Homo sapiens: one gene and its partners. The protein of the gene in region 1 purifies or fractionates together with the protein of each later gene. This does not show direct contact. Each region holds a gene or a part of one and is shown in the gene's direction. Other genes may lie near its edges. The genes, in order: TBC1D22A, RPA3, DNAJB4, ARFGEF1, QSOX2, CTSV and AMBRA1.

Evidence for each region.
Region 2: the proteins of TBC1D22A (region 1) and RPA3 purify together in Homo sapiens (pull-down; one large-scale study listed by IntAct). This does not show direct contact.
Region 3: the proteins of TBC1D22A (region 1) and DNAJB4 purify together in Homo sapiens (affinity purification with mass spectrometry; 3 studies listed by BioGRID and IntAct, with this or other methods). This does not show direct contact.
Region 4: the proteins of TBC1D22A (region 1) and ARFGEF1 purify together in Homo sapiens (affinity purification with mass spectrometry, with the first as the bait; one large-scale study listed by BioGRID). This does not show direct contact.
Region 5: the proteins of TBC1D22A (region 1) and QSOX2 purify together in Homo sapiens (affinity purification with mass spectrometry, with the first as the bait; one large-scale study listed by BioGRID). This does not show direct contact.
Region 6: the proteins of TBC1D22A (region 1) and CTSV purify together in Homo sapiens (affinity purification with mass spectrometry; one large-scale study listed by BioGRID and IntAct). This does not show direct contact.
Region 7: the proteins of TBC1D22A (region 1) and AMBRA1 purify together in Homo sapiens (affinity purification with mass spectrometry, with the first as the bait; one large-scale study listed by BioGRID). This does not show direct contact.

Annotation. Positions count from the first base shown.
Region 1 is NC_000022.11:46,796,627-46,801,291, forward strand, and holds part of TBC1D22A (TBC1 domain family member 22A), read left to right. Parts: intron 1-817; coding exon 818-994; intron 995-4,665. UniProt on the Homo sapiens protein: May act as a GTPase-activating protein for Rab family protein(s).
Region 2 is NC_000007.14:7,708,117-7,712,781, reverse strand, and holds part of RPA3 (replication protein A 14 kDa subunit), read left to right. Parts: intron 1-4,665. UniProt on the Homo sapiens protein: As part of the heterotrimeric replication protein A complex (RPA/RP-A), binds and stabilizes single-stranded DNA intermediates that form during DNA replication or upon DNA stress.
Region 3 is NC_000001.11:78,014,939-78,018,464, forward strand, and holds the end of DNAJB4 (dnaJ homolog subfamily B member 4), read left to right. Parts: intron 1-1,075; coding exon 1,076-1,309; 3' UTR 1,310-3,026; downstream 3,027-3,526. UniProt on the Homo sapiens protein: Probable chaperone. Stimulates ATP hydrolysis and the folding of unfolded proteins mediated by HSPA1A/B (in vitro).
Region 4 is NC_000008.11:67,224,723-67,229,387, reverse strand, and holds part of ARFGEF1 (brefeldin A-inhibited guanine nucleotide-exchange protein 1), read left to right. Parts: intron 1-1,123; coding exon 1,124-1,164; intron 1,165-1,255; coding exon 1,256-1,425; intron 1,426-1,789; coding exon 1,790-1,941; intron 1,942-2,078; coding exon 2,079-2,251; intron 2,252-3,204; coding exon 3,205-3,365; intron 3,366-4,354; coding exon 4,355-4,485; exon of another isoform or gene 4,486-4,665. UniProt on the Homo sapiens protein: Promotes guanine-nucleotide exchange on ARF1 and ARF3. Promotes the activation of ARF1/ARF3 through replacement of GDP with GTP. Involved in vesicular trafficking.
Region 5 is NC_000009.12:136,221,046-136,225,710, reverse strand, and holds part of QSOX2 (sulfhydryl oxidase 2 precursor), read left to right. Parts: intron 1-801; coding exon 802-850; intron 851-1,598; coding exon 1,599-1,704; intron 1,705-1,857; coding exon 1,858-1,948; intron 1,949-3,769; coding exon 3,770-3,915; intron 3,916-4,665. UniProt on the Homo sapiens protein: Catalyzes the oxidation of sulfhydryl groups in peptide and protein thiols to disulfides with the reduction of oxygen to hydrogen peroxide. May contribute to disulfide bond formation in a variety of secreted proteins.
Region 6 is NC_000009.12:97,031,908-97,036,555, reverse strand, and holds part of CTSV (cathepsin L2 preproprotein), read left to right. Parts: coding exon 1-33; intron 34-862; coding exon 863-1,028; intron 1,029-1,712; coding exon 1,713-1,830; intron 1,831-3,507; coding exon 3,508-3,607; 3' UTR 3,608-4,648. UniProt on the Homo sapiens protein: Cysteine protease. May have an important role in corneal physiology.
Region 7 is NC_000011.10:46,395,274-46,399,493, reverse strand, and holds the end of AMBRA1 (activating molecule in BECN1-regulated autophagy protein 1), read left to right. Parts: intron 1-1,550; coding exon 1,551-2,044; 3' UTR 2,045-3,080; downstream 3,081-4,220. UniProt on the Homo sapiens protein: Substrate-recognition component of a DCX (DDB1-CUL4-X-box) E3 ubiquitin-protein ligase complex involved in cell cycle control and autophagy.

The DNA of each region.
Region 1 (4,665 bases):
CTGACCCGGTCCCGGGTTGCTGGGTGGAACGTGCTGTCTCACCACCTGCTTGGATCCCCCTGGGCCTGTCCGTCTTGGGGGTCAGTGGGGCCATGGTGGGCAGCAGCAGAGGGCGGGAGGGAGGGCGGGCAGCTTGTACTCTAGTGCCACTGCGGTCACTGCCTGTGGTGGGGTCTGGGAAGGTGCCATCCCTCACCTGTCTGGCTTCCTTTGTTTCCTTGGGATGAGGGTCCCTGTGGGACCTTCCTCCCAGGGCACTGGTGAGACCCAGGAGGGCCAGGCAGGTGGCGGGGTTGGGCACGCTCTTGAGATGGCAGGTGAGAGCCCTCGCAGCGCCCTGGTTCCTGCTGTGTCCCCACTGTTGCCTTCTGTCCTCAGCACCTCTGCAGGCTTTCTCCTTTCCCTCATGGTAACTCACGGGCTTGCCCTCCGCACTCAGGCCTGGCTGACCCGAGGGCACCGTCCTACACAGACCCTCTGGGTCATGTCACCTGGGCAGGCCCTGATCTGCCACCCCAGGCACTGGTGGGAGCCTGACCTCCACACAGCCCGAGGGGCCCTGGAGTTTTCTGGCTGTCATTGTGTTGCTTTTATGCAAGGTGGTCCATTTTGTTGGTGAATAATACTCTGCCAGTGAAGCGAGTGAATTTCAAAGGTGTCAGTTCCATGTTATTGCTCAAGAAACCAAGGTCCCCACTGCTGAGTGATGGGAAGAAGGGACCCATCAGCATTCACAAAGGGACAGTGGCACAGCAAGGAGGAACGTGTAGTCGGGAGGAGCGCCCTCACCCTCACCCCCATTCTCTCACCCCTGCAGAAAGTGCCAGCGATGCCGCCCCTCTGCAGAGGTCCCAGTCTCTCCCACACTCGGCCACCGTCACGCTGGGTGGCACATCTGACCCCAGCACTCTCAGCAGCTCAGCGCTGAGCGAAAGAGAGGCCTCCCGGCTCGACAAGTTCAAGCAGCTGCTTGCCGGCCCCAACACGGACCTTGGTAAGCACCCTGCCCTCTGGAGGACACACACAGACATTTCTTGCTGTTTCTGAAATAGATCACATCTTAAAGGATTCTATGTATGCTTATGTAATGCACACGCGTCCGTGTGTAATTTGCCTTGCAGGAAGGTGATGTTTTCATGTAATATTTTCAAGTCAGTCACTAAGGTAGTAGCAATTTGTGCTTTAGACAAGTTTTGTTAATGTTTTTCCCATGCAATTTGAAAATGTATTTTGCGTTCCTTTTTGTTTTCTTTTTTTAAAATTTGAGACAAGGTCTTACTCTGTTGCCTGGCTGGAGTGCAGTGGTGTGATCATAGCTCACTGCAACCTGGAATTCCTGGGCTCAAGCAATCCTCCTGCCTCAGCTTCCTGAGTATGTGGGACTACAGGATTGTGCCACCATGCTCACCAGATTTTTTAAACAATTTTTTCTACAGATACGGGTCTGCCTGTGTTGCCCAGGCTGGTCTTGAACTCCTAGGCTTAAGAGATCCTCCTGCCTCAGCCTCACAAAGCACTGGGCTTAAGGCGTGATCCACCACGCCTGGCCCATTCTGTTTTCCTGTTGTCCCATTTGCACTCTTTATTATTGCTGCCCTTGGTGAGCCCTTCGAGGCTGGCCAGGTGGACATCCTTGTTCTTGACAGTATTCTGAAGACAGTGGCTCATGGGGGCACAGCGCTGGTGACCATCAACTCAATCTGCTGGTTTTGTACTTTCCTACCATGGGGCTTGCAGTCATCAGAGGGTGACAGGCTGTGAGCCCTGCAAGGGGGCAGGGGTGAGGCTGGGGCAGAGGGGCAGGCCCACAGGGCAGAGCACAGTCACCAGTGTGACTCTTCCTGCGCGAGTTGCTTCCAGGCACACGCAGTGCCCATGTGGACTGCCGTGGCCAGGCTCTGTGGAACGCACTTGCTTTCAGTTCCTCTGGTGGAATTCCTGCTGAATCCACGTCCTTCCTTTCCCTATCTCATCTTTGTGGAGTGCCACTCTGGCTAGGTGTTTGCTAGACGCTGGAGCTCTCGGGAGGACCGGAATGTGGCCTTGGTCATGAGATTGCTTCATTGAGGGGACAAACCTGTATCACACAGTTATGACTGGTGTCACTGTGGCACTCTAAGAGCCAGAGGTGCAACGCCTGGCTTGGCCAGGAGGTGGCGAGTGGCGCACGCGGATGGGCCGCCAGGAGCCACGCAGGAGCCATGCAGGGGCCATATAGGAGCTTGCAGCAGCCGGGCCTTCACGCTCAAGCCCAGGGCAGGGAGAGGGTTTCCGGGCAGAAGCAGCGGTTCAAAGGGCATGGCTGAAGCTGTGTTCTCGAGGCGGGGGAGGGCTCTTGGAAGGTCTCCTGGCTAGAAGGACACAGCTCTGAGTAGAGTTCTCAGAGTGGGTGGTTGTTTCTTCCTTATGTTTGTTTTTTTTTGAAACAGCAACACTTGCATGTGTTATAACATGACACAGCACAGCAGGGTGTATGTGAAAATGAGGCCTGTCCCAGCCCCCACCTTCCCTTCCTTTCCACAGCTCGAGGTGTCTCCTTCCAGCGATGGCCCATGCATCTGTTGTTTTAAACGTTTCGTGTTGATGCAATTCAAACTTGCAGAACAGTTGGCATGAATAGTGCCAACAACTCCCATATGCTCTGTACCCAGAATCACCAATTGTTTACGTTTGCCCATTACCATTCTGCATGTGTGTGCCTGTTTTTGTGTGTATATATACATTTTTTTCCTGAACCATTTGAGAGTCAGTTGGAGATATATCCCTTTACCTCTGAAACCTTCGCTGCATATTTCCTAAGCACAAAGACATTCCCTCAGTATCATCACAGCACAGGGGTCACAATCAGGAAATTTAACGTTGACACAGTACTATTTTAACACTTGTATTATTTTCATCCACAGTCCATAGTCACATTCTGCCAGTTGTCCCAGTAATGTCCTTTCCCTCTTTTTTCTTAGTCCAGACTCCAGTGGGGACCATGCGTTCCATTTGGATGTCACGCCTCTGTCTTCTCCACTAACCTGGCGCAGCAGCTTTGCCGGTCTCTGCATTTCCATCTTGACACTTTAGCAGAGCACGGGCCAGTGATTTTGTGGGATGTCCCTTGGTTTGTGCTTGTCTGATGTTTGCCCACAATGAGATTCTGATTGATAATTTTTGGCAGGAACATCACTGAAGGGATTCGTGTTCTCCTTGGTCATCACAGCGGGGGCACGTGGTGCTGGTGGGTCCTCACGTTGAAGATGTGGACTCCGATCACTTGGTTGAGGTGGCGTCTGCCAGCTCTTTCCACTGAAGAGCTCCCCTTTTTCCTTTGGTGATGAAGTGCTCTGTAGAGAGATGCTCTGGGGTCTGTGCATTTCTACAGTGTATTTCTTTGTCCCCTTGCACGGCAAGGCAGTTGTGCACCTCACTTTTTAAGGGAATGATACATTTTCCCATGGCGTACGTGGAGAACCGCCTTAGTCTTTAGAGTGCCCTGTAACATGCCATCCTATGGATTTCCCCCGACTTGACTGCACCAGCCCCTGCGGTTGGGCAGCGGGTTATTCCTAACTTGCTATTATTACAAACAACTTGAGAACGTTTCTTCAGGCGCCTGAACCTCCTTCTGTGATGGTGACACAGAGCATCCCTAGCCATGGGTGAGGCGAGAAGGCAGTGTGGGGGATGGGTCTGTGAGTTCGCCTAGAGCACCAGGTGTGGAGGTGTCACCCACCAAGACAGGAGATAAAGGTAGATCGTGCTTACGGGAGTCTAGTCTTGTAGTTGACGTACCCATCTTGGCCACTTCCTCTTCTAGCATGCCAGTGCCCCTTCTCTGCTGGCTCTCCTGCCTCCAGGGTGGTGTGGAGATTCAGAACCACGTTGCACCTGGGAGAGTGGGTCCTGGAGCCGGGCTGCCTGTGTGGAGAGCTGGCTCCACTGGTTACTCGCCACGTGACCTTGAGCCAGCTTGGTGATGATCCTGCTCTCAGAGTTCTTGTTTGCGTGATAGACATGATGAAAGCGGTGCTCATTTTGCAGTTTAAATGAGATAGTACATATGACATGCTTAACAGAGTGCCTAGCACATACTAAACACTCAAAAATGTTAGTTATTTTTATGGTTGTTGTTACGTTCATTTGAACTGGCCTTTTTATCTTCTCACTTGATTTTTGTGCTATTGACGTATATGGTCACTTTTGTGGTCATTGACGAGTCAAGGACTTACAGATGTTTTCCTGGTTGTGTCCTGTGGTTTCCAGCAGTAGGCAGGTGGAGGAGAGACAGCTGGTGAAAGCAAGATTTGCCTGATGGGAACCCTGTGCTGGGTCAGGCTCTGAGTACCCACCTGGAGCATTCTGGAGGACTTTGTAATTGAACCAACTTTTGGAAATTAAAATCACACTTAAAAGTAAAGCTTTCAAGACTTGTAGGAAGATGGGAGTATGTAGGGCTAGATTTTAGCACGTAAAAATCAAGTATTTTGTTAGGTTGAGGGGACTGTGGGTTTTTTTCTTTCTTTATAATTCTATGTAAATATCAAATCTAAAACCAAAAAGCTAAATGCAGAGCTTTCAAAGTTAAACGATGACTGCATTTGTATTTAGTAGCAAGAGAAAACATCGCCAGTAAATTGCCTGTTTTTATAAGGCAGTTAAGATAGCTTTGGAAGACAG
Region 2 (4,665 bases), on another chromosome or scaffold:
ATTGCAAACATTATAAGCATTCTTTTTACAATCAAAAGTGGGGAAAAGATGTTTTCTTTGACACTTCTCTTCAACATACTAGAGGTCCTAGACCATGCAGTAAGACCAAAAGATAAAATGAAACCACAAGGATTTGAATGAAACAAAACTCACTATTCACAGAGGTTATAATTACGTACTTAGAAAATTCAAAAGAATCTAAAGATGAATTATGGGAAGTAAATATTTTATCAAGATGGTTGCTACAAGTATCAGCTACATGTTTCTATGCTGGCAACAAACAGAAAATACAACTTTAAAAATATTTACTATAATAATAAAACAAAAAAGCACTCTAAGAATAAATCTGACAAAAGCAGAAATGTGATTTTTATGAAAAATGCATGGCAATTTTACAAAAATGTATTAAGGAAACCTAAGCAAATGGACAGAAATATATTTCTGAAGAAGACTAAATATTGTAAATATAGCAATTCTCCCCTAAATTAATCTATATGTTCAATAAAATTTCAACAAAAATCACATCAGAGTGGGTAGGTTTGAGTGATTATCCATCTGTTATTCATTTTTTATTTATTTGGCATAAGATCAACTGATGCTTCATTATATAGAAAAGCAGAGAACAAAGGAAGGTTGAGATGGTTTTAAAGGATGGTAATATAATGAGCTTTATGACATTGGCTAAGAGAGAGAAAAATAGCCTCATAAAGTAGGAGAACCAAAGATACTATATATGTAAGAGTAAGCTTGGAAGATACGTGAAGAAAAGAAGATGAATTAATCCAAAATAGTACTAAGAAAATAGGTTATCCCTACAAAAAAAAATTAAAATCGGATCGCTATACCACACTATAACCAAAGTTAACCATAGAGCTATAAGAAGATGCTATAGGAAGATGACTTTCTGATCTCCAAGAAGGGACTTTTTAAATCAGACTGAAATATGAAAGTTAAGGAAAAGTTTTATATATTTTAAAACTGTCACATCAAAATGTCTCTTCATTAACAGATAAAAAGAAAAACATAAGTCATTAAAATGCAACAAAATTTGTAACTAGATCCCCTTAGAATCAACTTTTTAAATGACAGACAATACAGCAGGGAAAAGAGATCAATAGTGATTTTACTGAGCAAAAAAACCACATATGACTATTAAACATAAATAAAAATGTCCAATTCCATTATAAACAAGAAAATGTAAATTAAAAACACAAGATACCATTTTCTAACCAACAGACTGATAAAAATTTAAGTCTCACAGTATTACATGTTAAAAAGGATAGAGTATAATATCCTTGAAGTACAATATCCTTAAAAAGGATAGAGTATAATATGAAAAGGATAGAATTTTCATATACCACTTGGGAAAAAAATTTGCCATGATTTACTAAAGTTAACATGTGCATAGCCTGTAATTCCTCCCGGAAATAAAATCTAGAGGAAAGCTCACATATGTGCACCAGGAGACATGTACAAGGATGTTTGTAACAGCATCATGTTGTCTTTTAATTGAACTTTTTCAGATAATTCTAGATTCACAGGCAGATTGGAGAAATTATATGGAAATATCCCATGTAGCTTCTACCTGGTTTACCACAATGGCAACATCTTGCAAAACTATAGTTCAATACCACAACCAGGATATTTCATTCACACAGACCAGATACAGAACATCTCCATAACCACCAGAATCCCCAGTGTTATCCTTCTATAGCCACACACACTTGCCTCTAACTTTCACCCCATCCTTACCCACCGGCGACCAATGATTTCTCTATTTTTTGTGTACAGTTTGGTCATTTCAAGAATGCTACATAAATGAAGTCATACAGTACGTTACCTTTAGGGATTGGCTCTTTTCACTCAGCATAATTCTCTGGAGATTCATCCAGGTTGTTGTATATATCAACAGTTTGTTACTTCTTCTTGCTGAGTATTATTCCATGATATAGATATACCATAGATTTAACCATTCACCTGTTGAAGGATATTTGGTGTGTATCCAGTTTGGGTCTATTATGAATAAAATTGCTATAAATACTCAGTTTTATGCACATATACGTCTTCAATTTCTCTGGGATAAATGCCCAAAGTGTAATTGCTGAGTCGTATAGTAACTGCATATTCAGCTTTTCAGAAACTGTCTATTTTCCAGAGTAATTGTACCATTTTACATTCCTATCATCAATAAGTGATCCAGATTCTCTTCATCCTTACCAGCATTTGGTGTTATTACTATTTATTTTAGCTATTCTGATACAGGTTTGTAGAGACCTATCATTATGGTTTTAATTTGCATTATGGCTAATGACACTTATTCATGTGCTTATTTGCCATATGTATATCCTCTTCAGTGAAATGTCTCTTCATGTCTTTTGCCCATTTTCTAATTTGGTTTTATGTTTTTTTGTTTTTTGTTTTTTACTGCTGAGTTTTGCAAGTACTTATTCTAGGGACTAGTCCTTTCATTTTGGGCAATTTTTGCATAAAGTGTGAGACACAGATCAAGGTGTTTTGTTTTTTCTTCTGCCTACTAATGTTCAGTAACAGCACTGTTTTTAGGAAAACAAAACAAAACCCCAAATGTTCATCATCAGAACAGATATATAAATTGTGGTATATTCATCAATGGAATGTCAAATAAAAATGAAAGAACTAAAGATACATAGAGCAATATAGATGAGACCAGATACATGATACTGAGTGAGAGAGGCAAATTGCTGAAGAACATATTGTACATACATTGTGAGTGACTCGATTTATATATGGTTGTAAAACATACAAAACTACACATATGAAAAATATGTTAACACTATTTAAAAAGAGACCCCAAAAAAGCAGAATTTAAAGAGTGGAATTTACCTCTGAGGTGGGAGTAAGGAGAAGACTTAGAGAACTTCAAGGTTAACAAGAAATTATATTTCTTAAACCAATTGGTGGGTACACAGGTGTTCATCACATTGTCATTCTGAATATGTTCTCATTATTTAAAAAAAAAAACTTTAAAAGGTTATTTTTCAAATTGAGATTTGCATAAGCAAGAGCTAAGAATAATAGCTGGTAAGATGTCACTTTAAAGATCTTACCCTCAGCAGGTAAAAAAACAGTTATTATAAATTGTAATACAGGAACATACCAAACAGACCCTTGTTAGGGAAAGATGACTTCTGAGCAAACAGGTGACTTCTGACAAACCATTCTTATCCCACAAGCCTCATTTTGCCCTTGCAGGCTCAGCGCCTGACTTTTCTTTCAACTTCAAGTCCCCCAGTCATTCACCTTCTCTCCACACAGTTCCTTCTGCTTTGTTTTACAGCATTCTGCCCTCCTCGGGTGGCAATGCTTTAAGTCAACACCAACATCTGACCTCTCCAGCTTATCCACAGGACTTATCTTCTTAAGAGATGGTGTGAGGACAAAGGGTGAGCCTTCCTGACTTGAATTAATGACGACCCACAATTGAACAAGTTTCTAATGTTCATATTTACAAAGAATATAGTCTAGAATCTCAGTTAAATCCATATTAAAAGTAACCCCATGCATAACATTATTCACACATATAATTGAGATAAATCTCAGCACACAGATAGGAAAACAAAGACAGTCAATTTCAAACAACTAATAAAATTATTTAACCATTACAAAATCCCTTAACCATGCCGAATTTTGCAAAATATCTAAGAAATTATTATGCAAGACACTGAAAGATGTGTTATTAAGTAGTTAATTGGTATTTTTAATAGTTAGGACTGTTTTCCTCTTCTGTCTTCTCCTCCTCTCCTCTTTTCCTCCCACACTTTCTCCCTTCCTCTCCCTTTCTCTCTCTCTCCCTCTCTCTCTCTCACACACACACAGACACACAAACACAAACACACACCCCTTGCTGGTTAAAAACTTCTTAAAAACATACAACTGCCTGTATTTGTATATATACATATGCATTTGGTGTCTTGTTATAACTTCCCTTTAAACCACATATTAATGGGCAAAAAAAGTCCTAACATTCTATCTGTTGAAAAGCTGGGTCTGTCTCCAATAAACATAGTTGCTCGTTTCAGTCAAATCAGCTTATTTACTAATTATAAAATATAATTTTAAGATGGCCAAAACGAAGTAGTAGGAAAAGTATATTACTACTTTAATGGAATTTGCTTCTATTTTTGAGGTCTGTCCCAAAAGGACAAATATGTTGACTTATTTTTAAAGGTTTCCTTTCAATGTTTCAAGTTATAAAGCACTGCTGCTTTTGTAAAAGATCCTATTAATTTCTTAACAGAGTGTTAGACCTGATCCCCTTATATCCAAAATGGTAAATGCTGTCTAATAAATACATGGGTGATTGAATAAGGGTCACTGACACTTGGGTAACTGTTTAATACAGAAACAATTTATAATATATATCTCTCTACAAAACTAAAGCTGAGCAATCAATAATTTTGTCTTCCTTCGTCTACAAGTAGCTTATTCAACATTAACTAGTAAACCAAGGGTGAAAGGGAGGGTTGTAAATCACGAAGAAAAGATTCATTTTATTCTTAATTCCCACTTGAATCTATGTAAAATGTTAAGTTACAGACAGTTAAGGAGAAGCTGTTGTGTTTGAATATGTAATTGCTATTTAGATGATAATGGCGTGGATGTCGCAGCAGAACCATGATCCAAATT
Region 3 (3,526 bases), on another chromosome or scaffold:
CTCTATGGAACACTATTGTTTCTTACCCTGCTCTAATACCTACCTGCTACTGCCCAATGCTTAGTTCAAGCATCCTCTACTCCCGGAATCTAAGGGGTTAAGTTGGGTGCTCTTTCTCTTACAAAAGACCTCCATGCTTACCTCTGTTCTTACACTATACAGTATTATAATGGCTAGTTTGCTTCTATGTTTCTGTGAGTTCCTTGTGCATTCCTTGAGCTGGGGTCTGTGTTCATGGTCCCTATAAGGCTCACCATCTAGCCAGAATGTGTGGCATATAGTAAATGCTCAGTAAACATTTGTTATCTAAAACAAATATATTTCTTGTCCTAATACTTTCCAGAGAAATAGTTGCTCCTATCCAGTTCTTTCTAGTCCTGAATTTCTCCCTCTTCTCCCATTCCAATCCCTGCATCTTGAATATATTAATAGCAGCTTCAAAATAACCATGTCATTCCAGGGCAATGTGGAATATATCCTTTACTTCTCTTTTACCTTTTCTTTTCTTCTTCTTTTTTTTTTTTTTTTGTAACATATCTAATAATGCATGTCCTGAAGGAATTTTCCTTTTTTTCTTTTCTTTTCTTTTTCTTTTTCTTTCTTTCTTTCTTCTTTTTTTTTTTTTTTTTTGAGACAGTTTTGCTCTTGTTGCCCAGGCTGGAGTGCAATGGCACGATCTCGGCTCACTGCAACCTCCGCCTGCTGAGTTCAAGTGATTCTCCTGCCTCAGCTTCCCGAGTAGCTGGGATTACAGGCATGTGCCACCACGCTCGCCTAATTTTGTATTTTTAGTAGAGACAAGATTTCTCCATGTTGGTGAGGCTGGTCTTGAACTCCTGACCTCAGGTGATCTGCCCGCCTTGGCCTCCCAAAATGTTGAGATTACAGGTGTGAGCCACCGTGCCTGACCTCTGAAGGAATTTTCTAATGAGGAAAAAAAATTTATAACTATTGTTATTCTTTTGGAGGTTAAAGTTTTACCTTAGTGGTATTATCCTTTACCATCTGGTAAAATTTGTGCTTAGATTTTTGAGTTTTGAAGTGTTTTCATTTTATTTTATTTGGTCCATTTTAGGCATTGTGTGGCTGCTCAATTAATGTACCAACACTGGATGGAAGAAACATACCTATGTCAGTAAATGATATTGTGAAACCCGGAATGAGGAGAAGAATTATTGGATATGGGCTGCCATTTCCAAAAAATCCTGACCAACGTGGTGACCTTCTAATAGAATTTGAGGTGTCCTTCCCAGATACTATATCTTCTTCATCCAAAGAAGTACTTAGGAAACATCTTCCTGCCTCATAGAATGAAGAACTTTGTTACACATATTTTGATAAGGCACTGAAAATATAAAAGGACTGGTAGTTTACTGATGTAGATGTGAATTCTGTATAAAGATGTGTAAATTCTTTTGAGGGTTCATTAAATTGCATGAATAGAGACGGGTCAAATAAATAGGCAAAAGGGATTTTTACAGTTAGAGATAAAAGAGAAAACCATTCACTGTATTTTATTTCATTTCTCCTGATTCAGATATTTTTAGTAATTTGCTTATATGTAAAAGTTGTTTTTGTGGAGTCAGTGGATATATTTCTAATGAAGTGCTAGACTATCCAATTACTTAATTTCTTATACCTTTAGATAATCAGTATGAAAAGTTCCCATTTATAATGGAAATGAAAATTCTTAACTAAACTATACATGTAATATGTATTTCTAGAAGAGAATAAAAACCCAAGTCAGTTATTAGATTTAAATCACCTTCTGAAATGCTGCTATAGGGCTGGTATCTGTAAAAGAATATCCTGATGCATCTGTTTCACCATTTTGATTTTTAAAGTATGCTGTAGCATTTCTTAATAACATCGTTGTGATGTTCTTAAGGCAGATCTTTCTTCATAAAAAGGAAAGTAATGGCAATTTCTCTCCTGTGGAAATCCCAATTGCTTGAATTACTGATATTTTAGAATAGACTTTTTAAAATGCCATATGTAATTTTATGCAAGTTGACTATATATCTTGTACTTAATAAATTATAGGCTCATTTTGTTCTCTGCTAGTTTAAAGTAATTCGTTTAATAATAGATGTGTTTTTAGAGGAAATGCTGTTACTTGGAATTAATTTTCCAGTTATACAGTCTTCTATAACTTACTAATAATATTCTATATGTACTTTATGTAATTTCCCTAAAAAGAATGAACTACCACTACACTATGGTGTTAAACCAAAATATAGGGAAAATAAACACTAACTGCTGCTTATGGATAATGTTGCAACTACTTGTTATGCATATAAATATTTTACTTTTTCACATGTATAGATTGCATTTCTTAGGTGTTTTAATTTTTTAAATATATTTATGTTTTAAAAATTTAGTTTTGTTTTCTGTTTTATAACTATAGTGAGAATGATGTTTTGAAGCAAAATTTTTGGTTATAAAATAGTTTTCAGGATTATATATATATATACTGGATCCTATCGCCTTTTAGTAGAATATGAAATATTCTTTTAGAAATCCAATATAAATAGGTTATAATAGCCATATTCTTTATTACTTTATTGAGATATAATTTACATGCCATAAAGTTTACCCTTAAAATATATAATTCAGTGGTTTTTAGTGATATTTACAAAGTGGTACAATCATCATCACTTTCTAATTCCAGAATATTTTCATCACCCCAAAAAGAAATCCTAAATCCATTAGCAGTTACTTCCCATTCTTCCCTTCCTCCAGCCCCTGAAAACACTACCATCTACTTTTCATCTGTATGGATTTGTCTGTTCTGGACATTTCACATAAATAGACTCAAACAATATATGGCTTTTTTTTTTTTTGGTCTGGCCTCTTTCATTTAGCTTAATGTTTTCAAGGTTCATCTATGTTGTATCACGTATCAGTACTTTATTTTTTGTGTGGCACGTCATATGGATATACCACAATTTGTTTATCTTTTCATTAATTATGGGCATTTGGCTTATTTCTACTTTTTTGGCTATTATAAATAATGCTGCTGTGAACATTTGTGTGCAAGTTTTTGTGTTTCAATTCTCATGGGTATATACCTAAAAGTGGAATTTCTGGGAGTAACCATATATTTGAGTTGCAAATGGAAAATGCTTGAAAAAAATGCCACAGAATTCAGCTAATCGTATTTATTACTCTAATTCATAAATGATTCCTCTATAACTGTCTCTCTGAATGACAGTTAAAACTCCCTACAGAAGTGTGAACATTACAGAAATTTTCTCACAAGTCTAAAGATCTAGATCTGAAAAGCATCAGTCAACGTGGTGAATGATAGTGGTTTCTGTTTTAAACCCATCATTATTTATTGCAATTTTCTTGATTAAGCATTTTCTCCCAGGTAAAATAAATGATTTATAGATAGATATATAATAATCTTTGGATTAAAAAGTTTTTTTAAGCAGAGAATTATTATTCTAGTAGTAAATAAATTTACATAACTACACAAAACCAGTATACCAGTATCTCTCTTATCTTAAAGGATATTGACAAT
Region 4 (4,665 bases), on another chromosome or scaffold:
GATATACTCAGAACATTTAGATTGTGATAGTAGGAAAAAAGGGTTGAATATACCTTTTGCTCAGGTAAGTGTGAGGCAGTATAGAAAAGTGGTTAATAGGATAGACTGTAATCACCCTGTCCTGGTTTGAATCTTGGCTCTAGCACTTACTAGTTCTGTGACTTAGAGGAAGTTATTAAATATCTTTGTGCCTCAGTTTCTGTGTTTATAAAATTGGGGATTTAATAGTACATGCTTCATAAGGAATTTGTGATTATCAAATGAGTGAATATTGATATTACACTAGAAAAGAACCCATCTTGTGATTGGTAGCTATTACTGTTACTGCTATGACTACTGTGACCTGCTCCTGCCTTTAAAGTTTTCCTTTTTATCATGCAAATCCTATTTTGTGCATTCTAAGTTGAGGAATGTCATCCTTCTTGAAAGTGACGTCAAACTCTTGGTTGCAAACCCAGAATATGGGTTAAAATGCAGACTTTAAAAAAGGAGGACTAATGTGTTTATGCTGAAATTTTTTATGAAACTTTGAAACAAAAAAAGAGCTCAGCAAAGAAGAATGGGCAAAGCTGGGCAGTGTTAGCTTAACTCCAAACATTTGAATGCCCTAAGGAAAGTGGTTTGGCCAATTCTTGGGTAAACTGAGACTATTTGCAAGGTTATATTAAGTCACTTTTAGTGTAAATGAACTTTCTAATCAAATATACTTTACTGGTAAAAATACGTCAAATTTTTCATTTTAAGAACTTGCTTAATGCTAGACAATAATCAGGAAAGAATCTGTAGTGTGCCAATTATTAGTTTTACAAATTAATATTTTTCTTATTCTTAGAATCTCATATCTATCCGGGGTTTGTAAATCTGATAAAATTACAGCAGTATATACTTACCCTAATAATAATATTGAATGTAAACTGGTTCACATGGAGTAGAGGTGGAGGGGAGGGAGAAACATCCAGACTACACTTGTTACTAAACTAAATGATGAAAAATACTCATTTGAATACCCAATTTTTTGTTCCCTTAAAACATAAAAATAGCTAGTACCCCATGCCACATACTTTTCAATTGGAATAAGAACAGTAACTTATAAATTTTTTAAATTGTGTTTTATTTTCCCTAGAATATTCACAGGATCTACAAGGCTAGATGGAAATGCCATTGGTAAGTATGGGCATTTATTCTACTTCGGAACTGGCTTGGGGCTAAAATAACTTTAATGTTGAGCTAAAAAAAAAATGTATTTATATTACAGTGGATTTTGTCCGTTGGCTCTGTGCTGTGTCTATGGATGAATTACTTTCCACGACACACCCAAGAATGTTTAGTCTACAAAAAATAGTAGAAATATCATATTACAACATGGGAAGAATAAGATTACAGTGGTCTCGAATTTGGGAAGTTATTGGAGATCATTTTAATAAGGTATTTGAATAACTATGGTGTTTGTTTACATTTGTAGTATATTTTTTGTTTAGAATGTCCTTGTAATCAAATTGAGCCTTTTTCCCTTCCAAGCAATTATTTATTACTTTTTAATATTAAATTAGAAAACCCTGTGAATGGTGTTTTTCTTTTTAGAAATGATTGCTCTGGGCTTTAAGAATTTGATTTAAAATATCTGTTTTTCTTGTTGAGAAATAGTTTTAGCATACTTAATGCCTTTATGGAAAATCTTAGGATTTACCTATCTATGCTATTCTATACTTTTTCTAAAACAAAAAATAAAGAATTGTAGATTTTTACTGCTGATATTAATTAGCATCGTTTATTTCTGTCGCCATTACAGGTTGGGTGTAATCCTAATGAAGATGTAGCTATTTTTGCAGTAGACTCCTTGAGGCAGTTGTCAATGAAGTTCTTAGAGAAAGGGGAGCTTGCTAACTTCAGATTCCAGAAGGATTTCTTAAGACCTTTTGAACATATAATGAAACGGAACAGGTACTATATTTGTTGAATTGCTTAATAGAAGGAAAATCTTGTTGTTTTCCACAGCAGGGAGAAAAACAGAAGAAAGGGGGAAAAACTGATGAGTTTTATCGGTTTGCATATCCAAGCAATTATATTAATATTTTTAGGTCTCCAACAATTCGAGATATGGTTGTACGGTGTATAGCACAGATGGTTAATTCTCAAGCTGCTAACATTCGATCTGGATGGAAGAACATTTTCTCTGTATTTCATCTAGCTGCATCTGATCAAGATGAAAGCATAGTGGAACTTGCATTCCAAACAACCGGGCACATTGTCAGTGAGTATTCTCTTAGCTGTGTTCAAGTAAAAGGAAAAAAAAAAAGCAACCTTAACGTGTTCAGAAGATGATTCAAGTAACAATAAGATTATGGCCTTTAAGTTTACCAAGCTTTGTCTACAGAACCAGAGTAAATAAAAACAATTAAATTACTATTATAGTTAACATTTATTGAGTATTTACCATATGGCAAATACTGTGTGCACTTTTCACGTAATTTCTTTAATCTTCACAGTTAAACATTATTGTCCATCCCTTTTTTCAAAATAGATTAGGAAACTCAGCCCCAGAAAGGTTAAGCAGTCTATGTAAGGTCACAGAACTAGTGATGGAGATGGTCTTGAGACCCATGGAGTATTAAAGCAAAGCCTTTATTTTTGACCAGTAAGTACATTGCACAGCCTTCTTCAAGGAGGAGTCCCCTTAAGTTCAAGGGGGACTGACTGAAATACTAAGATTATAAGTTAAGCCTATATGGAAGATGACAATGATGACCATCAACATCAAGAATCATGGCATCATCATAGCTATCATTTATTGCGTGCTTGCTTAAGTATTACACTAAGCACTTCACTTATATTATTTTACGTAGTGCTTACAGCTATCTGTGTATATTATTATTATTTCCATTTTATATCAAGAAACCGAGATACAGAGAGGTTAAGTAATTTTGTATATTCATTCAACCAAAGTTGAATCAGTACCTACCGTGTACCAGTCACTGTATTAGGTGCTATGTTTATAATGTAAACAAAACAGACAAGTTTTACTATTCTCACCACTCAGGGCAGTCAGTTAAGTGGTAAAGATAGTCTTGAACTTCGTATCTGTTGGATGTCAGAACCTGTAACAACCTTTAAGAGGAAGTGCATTACATCTAGATGTTGGTGTATTTTTGGTACAGCTAAGAATAATTGAAAAATTATAGTAATATATATTTTTCTCTATTTTAGCCCTTGTATTTGAAAAACACTTTCCAGCGACCATTGATTCTTTCCAGGATGCAGTGAAGTGTTTGTCTGAATTTGCGTGCAATGCAGCTTTCCCAGACACAAGTATGGAAGCAATTCGACTTATTCGCCATTGTGCAAAATATGTGTCTGATAGACCTCAGGTATAGCGTCATTTAGTAAACAAAATTTTGCAGAGTATTCTTTCCAATTTGAAATCTTAAGTTTGTTTGGGAATTGAGGGTATATGAAGCATTTATTTTTCAGTAATTTGAAAAATAATCTGAGCAGCCTGATTCCAAGTTAGGATGGTTAGTGATTATAACTAACCATTATTGAAAGTGTCAGGTATTTTTCTGAGTGTTTTTCATTAACTTGTATTAACTTGTTTAATCTTCTAATGGCTTTATGGGGTAGATAGTGTTATAGCCCCATACAGACAAAGAAACTGAGGCACAGAGAAATTTTAAAATGTGCCCATAGTTTCAGGGCTAGTAAAGTAGAACTAGGGTTTGAGCCCCAGCCTGTGTTTCTAACCATTCCCTACAGTGCATCTTGTCTGTCTGTGCTGTGTAATACTGAAGCTGACTGACTATGGATGAGAATAGGCTTAAGCTCTAAAGTAAAAGGTTGAATTGAAAATCTAGCTGCCATATTTAACTTGTATATTTGAATCTATCTTTGTAACTGTCATAAGAGAAAGTGATGTATCGTAGATTTGGTAATAAGATTTTATTCCGTACTACCATGGACCGATCAGGTGCTTGGTACTTTTTAGATACGTCAACTCATTTCACCTTCATACTTCACCAGTGTGGTTAATGTGGCTGTCTGGTATCATAACCATTTAAGTGATAAAAATGGAAACCTGAATTAACCTGGCTAATAATGCAGAAAGCTGGTGACAGTTGAAAGTGAAGCTAACTTTTGGATTCTAGTCCAGAGCTCTTTATAGGCAGTTATGTTTTGCCTATTTCAGTGGCACATATACTAAAATTGTAGGCAGTTATAGTGTCCATTTTTTATAAATTATTTTTTATTAAATTGCTCACTGGTTATTTGTGAAGCATTTAAATTATTTTTTGAGAAGTTAGTATACTGAATGTATGGGTGTTATGTTTTGCCTTTAATAACCCTACCTTTTTTCTTGAAGGCTTTCAAGGAATACACAAGCGATGATATGAACGTAGCACCTGAAGACAGGGTGTGGGTGAGAGGATGGTTCCCAATTCTCTTTGAGTTATCCTGTATCATCAATAGATGCAAATTAGATGTAAGAACCAGGTAACAATCTATATTTGTAATTAAAATTTTGGATTTATTTTGACTTTAATCAAATTAACTCTTCTTTATAAACACAATCTCACAGTTAAAGACCATAAAATCAAGTGTTTTGTCAAATATATTAATTATTAGGTATATTTTAAAATATGTTAATATGATTTAAAAATATTAACTAGAGCA
Region 5 (4,665 bases), on another chromosome or scaffold:
GCTTTGAACGGCGCTGCTGTGCGCCTTCCCGGGCAAGGGGAGAGCTGAGGCTGGGAGAGAAGCCACTGGGCCGCGAACCGGGTCTGTGCACAACAGACCTGCAGGGCCAGCAGTGTCAGGCAGTTTTGTGCTCGCCCAGGGACCAGTGCAGCAGGAAGCACTGGCGGCTTCGTTTGCATTTCCCTGGCGGCTGCAGTGCCAGCACATCTGGCTTTGTGGGCCGTGGGTGTCATGGGTGAAGTGTCTTCCTGTCATCTGCACGTTTCCCTCTTAGCTGGCCAGTGCTTTTCTTACCGACCTCATCTCCGCCATCATGTAACCTTGTCTCGTCGCTGTCTCTAACGTACCCTTTGATGAAGAAAGTTTTTAATGTTAACATAAGAACCTAATCATCCACTCAGAGATACTGCGTGGTGTCTCCTCCTCCTGCACATCCTCCGTGTTGTCACAGCTAACGCTACAGCTAACCATTAAGACATAGGCTCACTACCAAGTCCCAGAGAGCGGTGTCTTTTATGATTCCAGCCCAGTTGAACTGTCTTGCTTCTAGCCCTGTTGGGTCAGAAAATGTAAATGATGGGAATGCTGATTGGAGCTAACCTTAGCCCCCTCGTAAATCTGACAGGAAACATTAATATGCACAAAGACAAGGAGAAGCGTGTGGTTTGTCATTAATTTATGAAAACTTTCCGAAGGAAATTGAGTAAAGCTCCCTCTAAGGTGACGGGCGTTTTGTTGCTTAAACACATGCAGATGCCCATGGAAGGCTGCCTCTTACTTGTTCTGTGTTTTTCCTCTTAGTATTTTAAAGCATTTACAAAGGAGTTTACAACTGGAGAAAATTTTAAAGGTAAGGACATAAGCATTGTATTTTAGTCCCTGAGATTCCCCTCATAAACCTGCTAAAGACACACGGTCCCAGAGCCTGGGGAGCTCCCAGCCTGGGTCAGCACCTTTCCCTCTGCTGACCTTCCTGCCTGCTTTCCCTTAAGAGTTCAGATATTAATAGTTTCAAAGAGAAATTTTAATTTTGTGCTTTGCCTTGCTTGGCAAATATTGTAGTAAAAACTTTTTCAGAGTAAATTTTTTATTGTAAAAATATTTGGAGATGTGCACAGATCACATGTACCCACCCGATGAATTTTTACAAATGATCCCACCCAGCCGAGCATCGCCCAGAGTGTGATCAGACCCCGCAGGCCACACCCTGGGGGGCTCTGCCTGTGAGGGACCCGGTGGAGCTGCCTGGCCTGCTCCTCGCCGCGCCCTGGGGGGGCTCTGCCTGTGAGTGACCCAGTGGAGCCGCCTGGCCTGCTCCTCGCAGTGCCGTGTCTTGCCATCTGCCTCTGTTGCCTGTCCCTGTGGCCCACCCATGCTTGTGTCATTGCTGTGTGGTCTCCAGTTGTGTGAATCCAGCGCTGTCTGTACCACGCCTGTGGGTGGCATTGGGCACACCCATTGGGATTGCACATGTTGCTGCCACCTGCACCCTGCTGTCTTTGGGCCCCAGGCTGGGACGGGGCTGCTGTCCCTGGGTGTATGCCTGCCCCACGAGGACAGCCGCACACACAGCTCTGACCCTGGTGTGCTTCCGGCAGGACCTGACCGAGAGCTGCGAACAGTCAGACAGACGATGATTGACTTCCTGCAGAACCACACGGAAGGAAGCCGGCCCCCTGCCTGCCCGCGCCTAGACCCCATTCAGTGAGTAGCTCCATGAAGAAGGCGGCCGTTAGACTCGTGTTGAACTGTGCAAGAAACGTAATAGGTTTCTATTAAGTGATGTGGCCACTGGGATGTGGTGGCCAACTCGCTGCTGTTGACGGCACTAAAAGCCTCTTTTTTTCCTCTTGAAAGGCCCAGTGATGTTCTTTCCCTTCTTGACAACCGTGGCAGCCATTACGTGGCTATTGTCTTTGAAAGCAACAGCTCCTACCTTGGACGGGAGGTACGGCCTCTGCGTGGGCTCCAGGTGTCACACGTGGTGTGATTGGGGTTGGCGGTGGATCTGTGATGAGATTTGCAGGTGCCGGTCACTGTGTCGGCATCTCGTGTCCTGTCTGTGGCTTTAGGTCTTGTTCATTATCAGAAGCTTAGTTAATGTTACTCAGCAAAGTCACTGGTGTCTGGAGAAGACTGTTAGGATGAATGAGCTTGGCGGTGGGAGGGGTTCAGAAGGTGGCCTAACCCTAGGTTTGAAACTAAGAGGGGGCTTTGCAGAAGATCTCATTTTTATGACACGCCCAGCTCACCTTGAGGTCATTCTGTATTTTGTATGCATTATTACTAAGATTTTTTTCGTTGCCGTATTCTGAACTCTCAACATTTTTGCCAAATCCAAGATTCTGTAAAACGTCGTTTCTATCGTCATACTTTGATTTCACACGTACAGTTCTGAAGCCTTGCTTCTGGCCAAGTCTAAATAAGGTCCAGGGACCAGGTGCAGGGGCAGCTCACGGAGAGTCATTATTGCTGACAGTCTTCCCGGAGACGAGAGAAAGGCCTCACTGCACATGCGTTCGCCCAGCACTCACCCTGAGCTTCTCCTCCTCCTCCTTGCAACTTGATAGGCGACTGTTTTTCTGTCCACTGTGAGGGGCCTTGCGGTGAATGTAGGAAACAGCTTTGCCCCTGCGAGGGCTTTTGGAGACGCACTTGGGAAGGCAGCTGCAGACACCTGCACTGTGACCGTCTCGCTTTGTGCCCTGGCTGCCCTCCTGGCACCCCAGCACCGCCCCCTCCAGGTTTGATGGTGACGCCAGGCTGCCTCCAGATGGTTGGCCAGGATTCTCTGTGGAGGGCTGAGGAACCGCTAGCAGTGTGTGGCTCTCCCAGACCCCTCACCCCTGTCCCAAGGCCCCTCGTGCCCTTGCTGTCTCGGGCGGGGCCTCCACACACGCAGACCAGAGGCAGGTGTTCCCCTGAGAAGAGGCGGGTGTGGGACCGTCTTGGTGCCGGGCACGCTCCCCTACCTGCCTGGCATGCTGGTGCGTTCGGGGCAGCCAGGCTCCACTCGTGCAGGAGGAGTGCTCTTCAGCACAGAGTCACGGCATGGCCCAGAGCAGAGACCAGTGTGGCCCCAGAGTAGCGATCAGCTCTTCGCAGACACACCCAGCTCAGGAGAGGCACGGCCACGCGGGGCGCCCAGTTCACACCTTTAGCCAGGGCCCTTGGTTTGAGGAGCAGCTGGTTTTGTTCCTCTGTTAAGAGAAGGAAAGACGTACGCCCGATGTGGTGGTGGCGCACGCAGGGTTTCTTCCAAAATCCTGAGATGCCACTCCTGTGGTCTCTCTGCCACGGAGACCCTGTTGCTGCCCCTTCAGCCTGAGCAGAACCAGACAGGAGCAGGGTGGCTGGGGAGGAGCGGCAGCACGAGGCCTGCTGCCCCGGCCACGAAGCTTCCACACGCGGGACGGGAGTGCGAGGCCGTGGGGTGTGGCTGCTGTGTGCAGGGACTCACTTGACCAGTATCAGTGTTGTGGGGGGCGCGCTGGTTTTAGAAAGTCAAGTGCAAATTCGCGGATAAGTGTTTTCTTTGATGAGTTTGTAAAATTGCCGAATAAGACCGTGGTTTCTGCTCATGGCGTGTGTGCCGTCAGTTGCCTTAAAGTGCAATGAGAGTGAAGATTTGAGTGAGGGTCTTGCCTGCAGGGGGACAGACTTCATGCCCTTTTGTGAAAGGTTCCCTGCAAGGCCATGTGTCTGCACGTCGTGTTTTCTGAGAAACTGCCAGCCCCTGTGGAAGTGTCATTGTGTTCTCATCCCCCAGGTGATCTTAGACCTGATCCCGTATGAAAGCATCGTGGTGACCCGAGCACTGGACGGGGACAAAGCATTTCTGGAGAAACTTGGTGTTTCTTCAGTCCCTTCGTGTTACCTGATCTACCCAAATGGGTCGCATGGATTGATTAACGTGTGAGTGCCCGGGTGGGGTCTGGGAACTCCGTGCCGCTCGGAGTTACCGGACAGAGGCTCCGAGTAGACAGTGCAAGTCTGGTGTGAGATCGGGGGAGCCCTGGCCCCTCCGCCTCGCTTCCCTGGGCAGATTTGGGCCCTGGCTCTCAGCCCGTGGGTATTGCTGATCTGTGCTGTGTTTTCGTGGATTTCTGTTTTCTCACTGCTGTGTCCCCGCACCTAGGAGGAGCCTGGCGTGGTGACTTACCAAGAGTCGCAGAGGAAACCGTGGCTAAACCAGCACATGCATGAGGGCTGCTGGGCCGGGGCTTTGGGAGCAGCCGATGCTCCTAAAACCCTGCTCTGGGTGGACTCTTGGGATGCAGTTTGGGTCTGTGTCTGGGGCTGGCAGACAAGCCCACGTGCCCACCTCTGCAGAATGAGAAGTAGGGGTGGGCACCAGGCCCTGCCCCTCACGTTCTGCTCTTTCTCTAAGAACTGCAGAACCTTGGCAAGCCCTTTGCCTCTGCGTGGGGTGCCCGTGTGCCCCTCATGAGGATAAGCCCTTCGCCCCTGCGTGGGGTGCCTGTGTGCCCCTCATGAGGATAAGCCCTTTGCCCCTGCGTGGGGTGCCCGTGTGCCCCTCATGAGGATAAGCCCTTCGCCCCTGCGTGGAGTGCCTGTGTGCCCCTCATGAGGATAAGCCCTTTGCCTCTGTGTGGAGTGCCTGTGTGCCCCTCATGAGGATAAGCCCTTTGCCTCTGCGTGGAG
Region 6 (4,648 bases), on another chromosome or scaffold:
GACTCTGAGGAATCCTATCCATATGTAGCAGTGGTAAATGGAGCTCCTTATCTTGTCATTCGTGCTCTGCTTTTGGAAAGTGGAACACTTTCAGAGATAACAGATACTTTTTTCAGAATTCACATTTTATATGGTAGAATCTACATCTGCAAACCGTGAGTATTGTCATTATAAATTATTAGCCTTTGGCCAGGCGTGGTGGATCACCTGTAATCCCAGCAGTTTGGGAGGCCGAGACAGGCGGATCACGAGGTCAGGAGATCAAGACAATCCTGGCTAACACAGTGAAACCCCGTCTCTACTAAAAATACAAAAAAATTAGCCCGGCCTGGTGGCGGGTGCCCGTAGTCCCAGCTACTCAGGAGACTGAGGCAGGAGAATGACGTGAACCCGGGAGGCGGAGCTTGCAGTGAGCCAAGATCGCACCACTACACTCCAGCCTGGGCCGCAGAGCGAGACTCCATCTCAAAAAAAAAAAAAAATTATTAGCCTTTGCACAGTTCTCTGGTGAGATGGTCAACAGCTAATGGTTACCATATAAGTACCATTAGATGGTTAACACACAGCTGTTCTTGCTTTTACATAACATGGAGAATAAGCAAACCATTCTACATATAATAGAACTTTATCCATTGTGAAAAATTTTTTATGGACAGATTGACCTAGGGGTTCTCATTGAAGAAATGTCAACTAATTTTTCATTTTCAAATCAACAAATAGCATTTTATTTCATGGGACGATTTATAAGGGTGTTGATTTGGAAATCCTAGGTTGCAAATTGCTGAGTGTTTCGGTTCTAGAACTAATGTTCCCCAGGAGGTAGATGGTAGTGATCAAGTCTCTCCCCCTTTAACTTTAAAAGGATGAAATCTGTAAGTACAGACCTGAGAATTCTGTTGCTAATGACACTGGCTTCACAGTGGTCGCACCTGGAAAGGAGAAGGCCCTGATGAAAGCAGTCGCAACTGTGGGGCCCATCTCCGTTGCTATGGATGCAGGCCATTCGTCCTTCCAGTTCTACAAATCAGGTAAGTGTCATTTTATTATAGAAATTTAGGCAGAATTGGGAAGCATCACTGTGATTGATTCTTGGATATGACATCCTGCTTTGCAGGAATGTAGTATTTTGAGAGTGAGCATTTAACATAGTGATGTTTGCATTTGACATGAGAAAATACTTAGTTATGTTAAACTTCTCATAAATATTTTTAAATGGCTATGTAATTGTATAGAGACAACCTAATTTTCCAAACTATTTTCCAGTTGTTGGGCCTTTTTTTCTCAAAGTTTTTTACTACTGTAATTAGGACTGTAAAGAATCCCCTTCAAGTTTTTGTTTGTTTATTTTGGTGCTATTTTAGACTGACATCCTAGGAACAGAAAGGGATTATGCGAGTTGGTATTTGGGCTCAGAGATATCTAAATCACCTTAGCTGTAAACAATAGGTTTTATCTTTTGGATTTTCATTTTTTTTGGTAGAAAATATCTTGAACTTAGTTGAAGTTAGTTGATTTCTAGTGAGTTGAGGTTGACTTTTTTCCTTTATCAGCCATTACTGTTTTCCGGCCAATATTGTTTGGGTCCTTATTTGGCATTTGTTTATGACATTTTACTGAATTTAGAGATGCCTCCCTTATGGAGGGTGGTAGGGTGGGTTACTGTCACATGTCGCTTGGAGCTTCTCACCCCAGCATTAATTTTACTCTCCCAGGCATTTATTTTGAACCAGACTGCAGCAGCAAAAACCTGGATCATGGTGTTCTGGTGGTTGGCTACGGCTTTGAAGGAGCAAATTCGAATAACAGCAAGTATTGGCTCGTCAAAAACAGGTATAAAACTCAAAATTGAAAAGGGAATTTTTGTTCCAAATCAGTATTTGGATACAAGTTCACAAAAGCTCAATTTCAAAATTCCGAAAGTCTTTCTTCTACTTAGAGTGAACACAGAAATATTAATGTTTGATTATAAGATTCCGTACCAAGCTTTTTGGAGTTATTGCTATGTATTTGTAATATTTTATTACTAAGTTTTGAAAATTTTTAAATTCTGAAACACATTAGTCCTCAAGGGTTTCAGACAAAGGACTGTGGACCTGTAGGTTTGAGAGCTGATTGCTTTTTTCTGTCTAATTTTTCAACAAGGAATAGTAAGCAGAAACATCTGCCTCTGCTGGTTCTTTGTTAAGTCTGAGAGATCATCCGGGAGTCCAGTGGTCTGTGTGCATCCTTCTATTGTCATTGGATGCCCTGTCATCGAATTTCACTCCCCAGCTCTCAGGCTTTGAAGGTTGTCAGAATCTATTTTCTCACAATTAGCATTCTTTAATTGAGATGTGACATAAGGTAGTATGTGGGGACAGACTGCTACAGTGGAATTCCAGTTCTGCCTCAGTATCTTAAATAGTTAAGGACCCACAAGAATCAATATATTCATTCATTCATTTGTTTATTTATTTTTTGAGACAGAGTGTCGCTCTGTCACCCAGGCTGGAGTGCAGTGGCACGATCTCAGCTCACTGCAACCTCTGCCTCCTGAGTTCAAGTGATTCTCCTGCCTCAGCCTCCCAAGTAGCTGGGACTACAGGGATGTGCTACCATACCCAGCTAATTTTTTTTGTATTTTTTAGTAGAGACGGGGTTTCACCATGTATGCCAGGCTGCTGTCGAACTGACCTCATGTGATCCGCCTGCCTTGGCCTCCCAAAGCACTGGTATTACAGACATGAGCCACCGTGCCCAGCCAGTTTTATTTTATTCTGAGATGGAGTCTTGCTCTGTCACTCAGGCAAGAGTGCAGTGGTGCAATCTCGGCTCACTGCAGCCTCCACCTCTCGGGTTCAAGTGATTCTCCTGCCTCAGCCTCCCAAGTAGCTGGGACTATAGGCATGCGCCACCACGCCTGGCCAATTTTTATGGGGGTTTTTTTGTTTGTTTTTTTCTTTTGAGATGGAGTTTTGCTCTTCTTGCCCAGGCTGAAGTGCAGTGGTGCAATCTTGGCTCACTGGAACCTCTGCCTCCTGGGTTCAAATGATGATTCTCCTGCCTCAGCCTCCCAAGTAGCTGGGATTACATGCCCGGTTAATTTTTTTTTTTTTTTTTTTTAATTTAGTAGAGGCAGGGTTTCACCATGTTGGTCAAGCTGGTCTCAAACTCCTGAAACCTCAGGTGATCCACCCGCCTCAGCCTCCCAAAGTGCTGGGATTACAGGCATGCACCGCACCTGGCCAATTTTTGTATTTTTAATAGAGACGAGGTTTCACCAGATTGGCCAAGCTGGTCTCAAACTCCTGACCTCAAGTGATCTGCCCACCTCGGCCTCCCAAAGTGCTGGGATTGCAGGCGTGAGCCACTGTGCCCAGCCTCAGGACATTTATAAATGGATATTAACAGCATTTAGAATAGTGCCTGACACATGGGAAGCACTGTTTAAGTATTAGCTATTATTATTAATGGAGCCAATTTTCCCTTGATTCCTTGTATAAAATGGAAAACCTGCTCCTCTTTCAGCTGGGGTCCAGAATGGGGCTCGAATGGCTATGTAAAAATAGCCAAAGACAAGAACAACCACTGTGGAATCGCCACAGCAGCCAGCTACCCCAATGTGTGAGCTGATGGATGGTGAGGAGGAAGGACTTAAGGACAGCATGTCTGGGGAAATTTTATCTTGAAACTGACCAAACGCTTATTGTGTAAGATAAACCAGTTGAATCATTGAGGATCCAAGTTGAGATTTTAATTCTGTGACATTTTTACAAGGGTAAAATGTTACCACTACTTTAATTATTGTTATACACAGCTTTATGATATCAAAGACTCATTGCTTAATTCTAAGACTTTTGAATTTTCATTTTTTAAAAAGATGTACAAAACAGTTTGAAATAAATTTTAATTCGTATATAAAGGTGGGCCTTTTTTTAATGCATTGGCTTTTTGTGTAGTCAGGAAATATAATTAAGCTCTGAAATAATAACTTCATGTGCCAATGGTATGTTAGGAGAAAGATGCTAGCAGAAAGCTGGCTTCCTGGCTCTTGAGTAGTTATAAAAATACAGACTTTATATCAGCTGCCCAGTTACTGTGTGTTACCCAACTCCTGAATCTACCAAAATTTGATAAACAATTTGGAAGGACAAACCTACATTTTTTTTTTTTATGAGACGGAGTCTCTCTCACTCTGTCACCAAGGCTGGAGTGCAGTAGTGTGATCTCAGCTCACTGCAACCTCTGCCTCCCGGGTTTAAGCAATTCTCTGCCTCAGCCTCCCGAGTAGCTGGGATTACAGGCGCGTGCCACCACGCCTAGTGTATTTTTAGTAGAGAGAGGGTTTCACCATCTTGGCCAGGCTGGTCTTGAACTCTCGACCTCGTGATCCACCTGCCTCAGCCTCCCAAAGTGTTGGGATTACAGATGTGAGCCACTGCGCCCAGCCCCTAAATTGTTTTAGTAAAGAAGAAAGCAGTTGACTTTTTAGAAAAGGAAATGTCTTCTTCCTTTGACACATAACCTCAAGATGGTTAGGTTACGTGATAAAAAGTGAAGCTGCTTGTTACTGGAGCCTCTCTGAATTGCTGGTGACCACTTTGCAGTCTGAGGAAGACGCAGGTGCAAGTAAGTTACCAAGGGTATTTTGTTTTCATTCCAAGTCTCT
Region 7 (4,220 bases), on another chromosome or scaffold:
TCAGGAGGCTGAGGCAGGAGAATCGCTTGAACCTGGGAGGTGGAGGTTGCAGTGAGCCAAGATTGTGCCACTGCACTTCAGCCTGAGTGACAAGAGCAAAACTCCATCTCAAAAAACAAAGGCTGGGCACGGTGGCTCATGCCTATAATCCCAGCCTTTTGGGAGGCTGAGGCAGGCAGATTACCTGAGGTCAGGAGTTCGAGACTGGCCTGGCTAACATGGTGAAACCCCGTCTCTACTAAAAATACAAAAATTAGCTGGGTGTGGTGGCGGGCACCTGTAATCCCAGCTACTCGGAGGCTGAGGCGGAAGAATGGCTTGAACCCAGGAAGTGGAGGTTGCAGTGAGCTGAGATCGCATCATTGCACTCCAGCCTGGGCGACTAGAACAAAACTCCATTTCAAAAAAATAAATAAATATGGCCAGGCGTGGTGGCTCACGCCTGTAATCCTAGCACTTTGGGAGGCCGAGGAGGGTGGATCACCTGAGGTCAGGAGCTCGAAACCAGCCTGGCCAACATGGGGAAACACCATCTCTACTAAAAATACAAAAATGAGCCAGGTATGATGGTGCATGCCTGTAATCCCAGCTACTTGGGAGGCTGAGGCAGGATAATTGCTTGAACCCGGGAGGCGGAGGTTGCAGTGAGCCAAGATCACACCACTGCACTCCAGCTTGGGTGACAGAGCAAGACTCTGTCTCAAAAATAAATAAAATAGGCCAGGCGCAGTGGCTCACACCTGTAATCCCAACACTTTGGGAGGCTGAGGTGGGCAGATCACGAGATCAGGAGATCAAGAACATCCTGGTTAACATGGTGAAACCCTGTCTCTACTAAAAATATAAAATTAGCTGGGTGTGGTGGCGGGCACCTGTAGTTACTCAGGAGGCCGAGGCAGGAGAATGGTGTGAACCCAGGAGGTAGAGCTTGCAGTGAGCTGAGATCGCACCACTGCACTCCAGCCTGGGTGAAAGAGTGAGACTCCATCAATCAATCAATCAATATAAAAATAACTCTCAGCTTCCTCAGGGGCTTTGAGGAGGTAACACAAAACTACGCTGAAGGAAGACAGCATTGTAATGAAGCAGAGCAGACTGTTTCCCTTTGGGCCACACCCATAGGGTACCTACTCTCTTTGCAGAGAAAGGGTGGCATACCCCAGCTCAGCCCTAGGTCTGCTGAGTTTCCACAACAGGGAGCAGGCAGACAAAACCAGCTGTCTGAACCTGCCTTCTCGCATGCTAAGCTGCCACTGGTGCTGAGAGAACTCATTGAGGCCAACCTGCTGCCTTCTGGGCCAGTGCTGCCTCTTAACTGGCCATCCTAGGCCTCAGTTTCCCCACCAGTAAAACAGAAGTATGGATTGTGAACATTTTGGGGGTTTTGTCTAGCTTTCAAGACTCGGATTGGTTTTCACAGTGATGGAGCGAGTCTTTCTCTATCCTGCGTTTAGTCAAGAATCCCCCAGCTGCTACCGGTGGCTGCCCACCTGCCTCAGAGGCCCAGGCCAGCAGCCAATTCGCTCTCTCTTCTGCTTTGTATCTGCCAGGTGAGGGTTCAGAGTATGGTGCCAGTGGAGAAGATGCGCTCAGCAGGATCCAGAGGCTGATGGCGGAGGGCGGCATGACAGCCGTGGTGCAGCGGGAGCAGAGCACCACCATGGCCTCCATGGGCGGCTTCGGCAACAACATCATCGTCAGCCACCGCATTCACCGCAGCTCTCAGACGGGCACTGAACCTGGTGCCGCCCACACCTCCTCACCCCAGCCCTCCACCTCTCGGGGACTGCTCCCAGAGGCCGGGCAACTGGCAGAGCGAGGCCTAAGCCCCCGGACAGCTTCCTGGGACCAGCCTGGTACCCCTGGGCGGGAGCCAACCCAGCCAACCCTGCCCTCTTCCTCCCCTGTCCCCATTCCTGTTTCCCTTCCCAGCGCTGAGGGACCAACCCTCCACTGCGAGTTGACCAATAACAACCACCTTCTGGATGGTGGCAGCAGCAGGGGGGACGCTGCAGGCCCTAGGGGAGAACCACGGAACAGGTAGAGACAAACGTTGCACTGGTGCCTCCCCTCGAACCGCCAAGCAGAAACCGGACCTCACAGCTGACTGGGAACTGGACATGTGGAAGAGCTGCTGGCTGCATCAGGGAACAGGAGGAGGAAGAGGGTCAGGGTGGAGAGGAAGATCAGTCAGTGGGCACAAGACAGTCAAATGGGCAAGGCCTGCCTCGGGGAACTAGAACCTTCCAGGATCTGGAGCCCGGGAGAGCCACACTGTGGGCTTAATGTGAATAGAGGAACAAGTGGGTATCTCTGCCAGGCACCCCACTTTCTCCTAGTAACATGGGCTCAGGGGACTCAGCCCTGGACAGAGAGCCTCCAGAGAGTGAACAGTCTTCCAGATCTGGGCCAATCATCCTGGACAGAGGCCCGCGAGGCAGCTTTGCCCTGTCCACCTGTTGGGTGGGCAGAGCCACCAGGAACCCAGACACCACCTCCAACTCTGAGCCTTCCAGAGCTTCAGCCTCTCTTCGTCGTCTTACCCCACTGAAACCAACAGGGATCGGGCCAGGCTCCCAGATTCTTGAGGACAGGGACTTCGGCATTTACTAATGGGGGACTACTGTGGGGTAAGGGGGCGCCTGCTTGCCTGATACAGGATGGGGTCAAGGGACAGTGGGCAGGTCCTCACTCAGGAGTGGGGGGTGTAGGCTGGCCAGCCCCCAGGGCTTGTCCACCAGTCTTCTCCCCGCAAGGCCCTCAGAGCAGCGCCTGTGGGTGTCAGTATTACCTGAGCCTAGGCCAAAGCTAGCCCAAGGCTGGGGAAGGGGAGGAGACTCCAGGTCAGAATGTGAGGTCTCAGTCTGTGATTTAAGGTGTTGCATGTGGACTCTTAACTGTACGTGTAGTTTCTAGTGGAGAAATCAAGGCTCTGATCATTTTGTTTTTAGTATGAAAATGTGATTTCCTTTCTGTTTGTAACTCATCATAGAAACATTGTGGTGGGAGGAGAGGGGATAGTCTACAGCTAATGAGGGAAACACCAAAGATCACATCATTAAAATGATGACATGCCCCTCGCCAGGCTCCTCTCTCTTATTTCCAAGGAGGATGGGGGAGGGGTGGGGATTGGGAAGTGAGGGGCATTGAACTGGGCCAGGCCCAGGTTCTCCCGGCACTGTTTCTGGTGCTCTCCTAGTGGGGTGCAGTGGACCCCTCTGACCCCTTCGCCAGAGCTGGTCAGGTGAGGGCTGCCACCTCTGCTTCATACCACTTCTCTGTACGCCACCACTTCCTGCTTCCCCAGGGCCTGCTACAGACTGGGGCCACCTTCCAGTGCCAGGGTGAGTATGTAGGAAGGAACGACAGAAGGCTATTCATCCTAATAGCTTCCCACCCAGGACTACAGGCCTGAAGTGATGTAACTGGCCAGAAACCTGGATCCCCTCCAGTCCTGGGAAAGCACGCACAGCAGGTGTCCAGCCTGCTAGGCAGGTGGAGGGGCTTGGTCCTATCTGCAGGCAAGGTGCCAGTTGCTAGCTGCTCAGGTCTCCCTTGACTGTGTCTTCCCTACAGTGGCCGAAAGGCCTGCTCTATTCGTGGGCTTTGGCTGCTTGAAAGCTTCCAGCTGGCCAGGCGTGGTGGCTCACGCCTGTAATCCCAGCACTTTGGGAGACCGAGACAGGCGGATCACTTGAGGTCAGGAGTTTGAGACCAGCCTGGCCAACATGGTGAAACCCTGTCTCTGCTAAAAATACAAAAAAATTAGCCAGGCGTGGTGGCTCGCACCTGTAATCCTAGCTACTGGGGAGGCTTGAACCCTGGAGGCAGAGGTTGCGGTGAGTCAAGATCACGCCACTGCACTCCAGCCTGGGCAACAGAGTGAGACTCCGTCTCAAGTGGGAAAAGGATATTTGCCCCAACTCTTCAAGAGCTCTAATGGAAAATCCAAGCAATTCCAGGGCTTTTTGCCAGCAGCACGTACTTTTGAGTGTGTGTGTGTGTGCCCAAATCTGTCCCTGATGCCATGGGGCACTCAGAATTCCAGGTTCTGCTCCAACAGAGACAAAACCAAAAGATAAGTTGGCAAGCAAGAAATAAAAAACCATGGCCAGAGTTAGGAAGACTCTTATTTTCTAGAAAATTCTGTATTAGTGGACTCTGGACTGAAAGACACATCACTTAGCTGTGTGACTTTGGGCAAGCCATTTGCCTTTTCT